2 linked regions of the Homo sapiens genome follow. The protein of the gene in region 1 interacts with the protein of each later gene in a biochemical or structural test. Each region holds a gene or a part of one and is shown on either strand. Other genes may lie near its edges.

What was found. Proteins that work in one complex are often made in the same cells at the same time.
Region 2: the proteins of SIPA1L2 (region 1) and SHKBP1 interact in a test that uses a peptide from one of them, tested with the Homo sapiens proteins (one large-scale study listed by IntAct).

Annotation. Positions count from the first base shown.
Region 1 is NC_000001.11:232,397,465-232,400,299, forward strand, and holds the end of SIPA1L2 (signal-induced proliferation-associated 1-like protein 2), read right to left. Parts: intron 1,810-2,835; coding exon 1,663-1,809; 3' UTR 501-1,662; downstream 1-500.
Region 2 is NC_000019.10:40,579,873-40,583,372, reverse strand, and holds part of SHKBP1 (SH3KBP1-binding protein 1), read right to left. Parts: intron 3,050-3,500; coding exon 2,888-3,049; intron 2,808-2,887; coding exon 2,717-2,807; intron 2,628-2,716; coding exon 2,437-2,627; intron 1,023-2,436; coding exon 907-1,022; intron 1-906.

The sequences.
Region 1 (2,835 bases):
CCCGAGTAGCTGGGATTACAGGCATGTGCCACCATGCCCGGCTAATTTTGTACTTTTAGTAGAGACAGGGTTTCTCCATGTTGGTCAGGCTGGTCTTGAACTCCTAACCTCAGGTGATCCACCCGCCTTGGCCTCTCAAAGTGCTGGCAACACCAAAGTGTTATTTTATTTTATTTTTTTAAAGGCAGTCTTGCGTAAATTACTTCACTTGACCCACAGTTCATGTGGTTGTAAATGGGAACCCCACCTCCTACCTATGAAGGATAGATACCATTGGGGTTAAATGAGATGGATGAAAAGTTCAGAGAATAGTGTCCGCCACACAGCAGCTATTAAAAACTGCTAGGTACTCCTTCCTGAAATCGATCTGGGATTCTATGAGAAAGGAGCTGAACAGTATTTAATACAAATCAAGGTTCTAAATGACCTGAAATAAATTCACATACAGTCAGACTGTTGACATGTTAGATCACAAAAAATCTAGTCACCTGACAACACCATTTCTTATGTGGACTTCTTTTAAACATTTATTAAAAAAGCAAAATGTATGTTCATCTCAAATCTAACAGTTAAAAATGGTAAAGCAATACAAACAATGTGTTACTAGCAGCATCCAGTCGTTAGAATCTCTCACCCTGCTTCTCGGTCTGATCTGTGCAAGCTCAGTCTCTTCTGAGCCTGCAGCTACCTCCATCCCTCATCGTAGTGCAGGCCAAACCAAATTTTATAAAATTAACAATTTAAGGTTAAATAAGCTTAAATAAGGGTGTTAAATACAAGACACTTCATCAAAGCTTCTGTACAAAGATAAACAAATCTGGCATTGTACAAGTGGTTCCGCTGGCTCACAGCACACAGGGAAGTTCTAGTGAGTAAGCAGATTCACTCTCATTTCTTTCCAGCAGAGCAACTATACAAAAGTGAACTAAGAGTTGAAGTGACTACTGACCACTCGGTGAGCCATTTACAAGGCATATGTATCTTTTTTTTGTTTTTAATCAGAACACTGTTAATATTCAGGCACCATTTGTTCCTGCAAATAAATAAGTCTCTAAGGTAACTGCATCTGAACTAGTGTTAAACACAACAGTGCTTTTTTTTTTTTTTAATCCCCCCACAAAGCTTTTCCAACTATGTACTATGCCTCCTTTCTTATTGCTATGGTAATGTGGCTGTGGAAATAAAACTACTGTACATCCAAAAAAATAGAGCACCTTTAACATTAAAGTATATGTCTGATTATTTGTTCTCATGTTTATTTTACAATACTAAAGCCCAAACTATGGTAAATTGCTTTACATCTCTACCAGGTCACCTGATATACAGGAAATAAAACTCAACTATCTTCCCTCTTGAGGTAAGCCCAAGCCAGAGCACTGTTTTAGCAGAGTCTAAAAGAAAAAGGTCTCAACTGTCGCCAGGGTTTACATTCATCTTCACACCAGGAGTTACATTCATTCATCTTCACATCGGCGCTGCTCTCTGCCGTGGTTACCGAGAAAGAGTCGAGGCTCCCTATCCTGCTGTGGTGAATGGTGCTACACAGAATGGAACAGCAAAAACATCTACGATTGGTTGAAAGCACACAGAAAAACCACATGTTTGTGACTTCAAAGGGACAAGGGGCATTTCCCAGTGGTCCCTTGATGAGGTGCGGATTGGCTAAGATTTTTTGTCGATGGTGGTGAAAAACCATTCTGTGAATTTCCGCAGCTGAGCTGTCGCGGTCTGGGACTCCTCCTGCAGTCTCATGTTGTCCTGTCTCAGGTGCTGCACTTCTGCTTGGAGAACGGCCTTGTCTTGTTTTTCCTGGTCAGAGCAGAAATAAACTGAGTCATGGAGACTGATCGATACATTCATTCCTCCTAAGCTGGGCTACGAGAATCTTTGATTCTTATTTTTACTTATGTACTTTTTGAGGGGAGAAGGGGTGACTTTCTTTAGTGAGGGGACTTTTCTGATCCTGATTCCTGCTGATGACAAAGGGATGGGAATGAACACTCCACACACCCTGTTCTTTCATCCCACTCTGCTCCCATGGGGTGCTAAGATAGCCTTTATATAGGAAGGGTGTTCATCATAGTTTATATTACCCTCTATCCAAAAAAGGGAGACTACAGGGAGGTTAAAGGTAATACCCTTTTGACAAATGCACAAAACTTTCTAAGTAGAAAATTGGAATTAGCAGAGCTGTTACATATGTTTATAATAAAATATGTACTTAGGTCTTTCATTCCATCAAGCTTTCCTGCTATACTATATTTCCATAATGACCCTTAAAATCTGCTATTAAAAACTGTGTAAAAATAATCAAGACTTTCAGAAGAATCACATCTGGAGTTTCCAACATGTAGCAATAAAAAAATGTATAGCAGCAGTTTCAGTTCCCCCCCTGCTGAAAGGGATGCCTTGCCCTAAATGAATAGAGGGGTCACTGTCAGATTGTAATAATCGGTATTTCTGTAACGGGATCTAACTCAACCACTACAGCCACCACATGCCACCCCCAGCACTGTGCAGGAGCATTGAGTGAGGTGAGTGGACGCCCCCACCCTTGGCATATCTGGTCCTGCCCTCAAGGCTTCCTCGTTTCCTGAGCCCTTCCAAGGCCCTCCTCAATACCACCTGCCTGGTCACTGGCCCAAAAGACACTGGTCCTCAGAGGAGGCCTGAATCAGAGCTGACCACTCACTTTGCTGTAAGGAGCAACTGCAGCCCACCCTGGATAGACTCACTTCACTCTAAGAAGCAGCTGCAGCCCACCCTGGATACTGACTCTCCCCGGACATTCCTCACCACGACTCTCAGTCCCAAGACAGTCTGAGTCCCACAGCT
Region 2 (3,500 bases), on another chromosome or scaffold:
AGCCGGGAGCCCTTCCATTCCTTTCCTTCCGTGGTGACCCCTCACAGAGGATGGGCCCTCTCCTCCACCTCCAGAACCCACCCACTGCTCCCCAGCCCCGTCCACCCCAGGCCTGCCTTTGTCCCTGTCTTGTTCCCTCCCTTCCTCCCTTTGATGCATCTGTCTGTCTGACTCTTGGCCTCTCCTGGACTCTGTACTTTTTAAAGTTTTAATTTTTTAAATTTTTTGTAGAGACAGAGTCTTATTATGTTTCCCAGGCTGGCGTCAAACTCCTGGGCTCAAGCCATCCTCTTGCCTCGGCCTCCCAAAGTGCTGGGATTACGGGCGGGAGTCACTGCACCCGGCCTCCACTATGTACTTCTGACATGACTCTAATTCATCTCCATTTATCTCTCTGAGTTCCCCCATCTGCCACAGTGGTTCAGTCTGGTTTGACTCTGTCTACCCTTCTCTGTCACCTCTTTCTGATTTTCTATTTCTATTTGCCTGGTTTTCTGCCTCTCTGTCTCTTTCTCTGCCTCTGTCTGTCTTTCTCCCAAAGCCATCCTCCCACCTCAGCCTCCCAAAGTGCTGGGATTACAAGTGTGAGCCACCGAGCCAAGCCAGTTCTTGTCTTCTACAGCATCCCCCCTAACCTGCTCTCTCACCCAGTCCCAAGACAATCCTCCCTACTCCTTTTCAAACCCATTCATGCTTCATGTGGGCTCTGCAGCACCTCCTCCAGGAAGGCTTCCCTGGTGCTCCTTAGGCCTTTATCACAGACATCCCCAGGCTCTGGCCAGCTGCTGGTTCTCTGGCTTCCTCCAGGCTTAGGGGGTGGGGGTGGGGGCAGACGTGAACCCCTTCCTGGGTCTGTACAGTCTGGAAAACTGGGAAGGGGGCAGCCAGGCTGGCCAGAACTCTGACCTGCCAGTGCTTGGTGACGGCATTCCACACCCCGATGCGCCCTGTGTGGCTTGTAGCAATGAGCTGGTTCCCGACGAAGAACAAGGCCTCCACAGGCACCCCCAGATGAAAGACCCCTGCAGTGGGCAAAAAGGGCTCAGCTGGAACCCTGCCTCATGGAGGAGGAGAGGTGGGAGGAAGAACTCCAAGGACCAGAGGGTTCAGTGGGACCACAGAATCCTTGAAGGATAGAAGATTCCATCAGGGGCTGGGCACAGTGGCTCACACCTGTAATCCCAACACTTTGAGAGGCTCAGGTGGGCGGATCATTTGAGGCCAGGAGTTTGAGACCAGCCTGGCCAACATGATGAAACTCCATCTCTACTAAAAAATATAAAAATTAGCTGAGTGTGGTAGCACACAACTGTAGCCCCAGCTACTTGGGAGGTTGAGGAAGGAGAATTGCGTGACCCCAGGAGGCAGAGGTTGCAGTGAGCCGAGATCATACCACTGTACTCCAATCTGGGCAACAGAGAATGACTCCATTTCAAAAAAAAAAAAAGTGAAGATTCCAGCAGGAATTAGAGAAGATAAAATGGGCCAGAAGATTTCTGATGGGGTATGGGATTCTAAAACGGTCTGGAATTCTAACAGCACTGAGATTTGCAATAAGGCAAAAAAACCTCCACTGGTGGCAGGGGATTCTTACGAGGGCTGAGATTTATTTGGGGACAGATTAATAAGTCCGAGATTTGTTGCTGTGGCTTTGAGACAGGGTCTTGCTCTGTTGTCCAGGCTGGAGTGCAGTGGTGCAATCATGGCTTACATAGCTCACGGCAGCCTCGAACTCCTGGCCTCAAGCAATCCTCCTGCCATGGCCTCCCAAAGTGCTGGAACTACAGATGTGAGTTACTGTGCCCAGCCATAAGTCAGAGATTTCTTTTTTTGTTTTTTTTTTTTTTTTGAGATGGTGTCTCACTCTGTCCACTCTGTCGCTCAGGCTGGAATGCAGTGGTGCGATCTCAGCTCACTGCAACATCTGCCTCCCAGGTTCCAGTGATTCTCCTGCCTTAACCTCCTGAGTAGCTGGGATTACAGGCACGTGCCACCACACCCAGCTAATTTTTTTGTATTTTTGAAATAAAGACTGGGTTTCACCCTGTTGGCCAAGGGGGTCTCGAACTCCTGACCTCAAGTGATCTGCCCGCCTCAGCCTCCCAAAGTGCTGGGATTACAAGCATGAGCCACCGCACCGGGCCAAGTCAGACATTTCTCATGGCCACACAGAATAGCGCATTCTAACAAAACCAAGAGATCTAACAGGGCAGGGAATTCTGATGGAGGGAGAATTGTATGTGGGTGGATTTTTCTAGGAAGCCAGGGAATTCTAACAGGATACAGAATTCTGAAGGGCTGGAGCATTCTAATGACACAAACAGATCTAATAGAGCAGAGAATTCTTATGGGTTTGAGGATTTTATGGGGTGGGTCATTTTAACAGGCAGTAGAATTTAAAGGACAGAGGGTTCTGGAAAAGGCTTGGGGTCATACCTATCTCGGAGCCACCGCCTTCCGCCTGCAGAGCCCATAGCAGGATCTCGCTGCCGGTGGCTGCTGCCACCATCTTGTCATGTTCACCCAAAGCCCCACCATGCACCCGGGCTGTGAGCGCCAGTCGTTCGATGGGCCAGTCCAGGCGGGGGCTGGAAAACACCAGCTGCCAGCCAGAGGCTTCCTTCAACCTGTAGGATCGAGGGGACATCACCAACCCTCACCGCATGCCCTTCCCATCAACAGGGCTGGGACCTCCTGCCACTCCCTCCCCAAGCACCTGTAGCAGACTAGAAACTGGGTATAGGCCACAGCGATCCAATTATGGTGTCCACACACCAGGCGCACCATCCCCGGCTCCTCAGGTTGTCCTTGAGGGGAAGAGTAGGGATCAGAAGAGGGTCACAGGGACCCCACAGCTGCCCCAACCTTCCACGAGATAGAAACGTACCTGAGGGTGAGGGAGGGGTTTTCTCATCCAGCATTCGGCCCAGCAGCCCTGCATTGCCAAGGTTGGGGGGCATCGTGTTGCTCCGTCGGACAGGGGCTGGCCGTCCTCCTAGCTGCTGAGGCCCCACTAGGCTGTGCCGGTTCCGCCGCTTCACTGGGAACACTACAGTGAGAATAAGAGGTAGAGTAACAGTCATTGTAATCGTGGCTGTCACACAGCAAGCACTTAAAATATGACGGTGATTGATTTCCCCATGTGTGGGACATAGTCTCCGGGTGAAGATTTTAAGTGGTGCAGTGACACAGCATGAAATGACACTGAACCACATAGCAAGTTACTTCCCTTTCAGTTCCCTTGAGCCCAGCACAGAGGAAGACTGAGTTTAGTGCTGCTGTGATATTAATGAATCTGCAGTATTACCTAATTTTCCGTTTTTTTTTTTTTTTTTTTTTTTGAGTTGGAGTTTCGCTCGTTGCACAGGCTGGAGTGCAATGGCACAATCTTGGCTCACTGCAACCTCTGCCTCCTGGGTTCAAGTGATTCTCCTGCCTCAGCCTCCCAAGTAGCTGAGATTACAAGCACCCACCACGACACATGGCTAATCTTTTATATT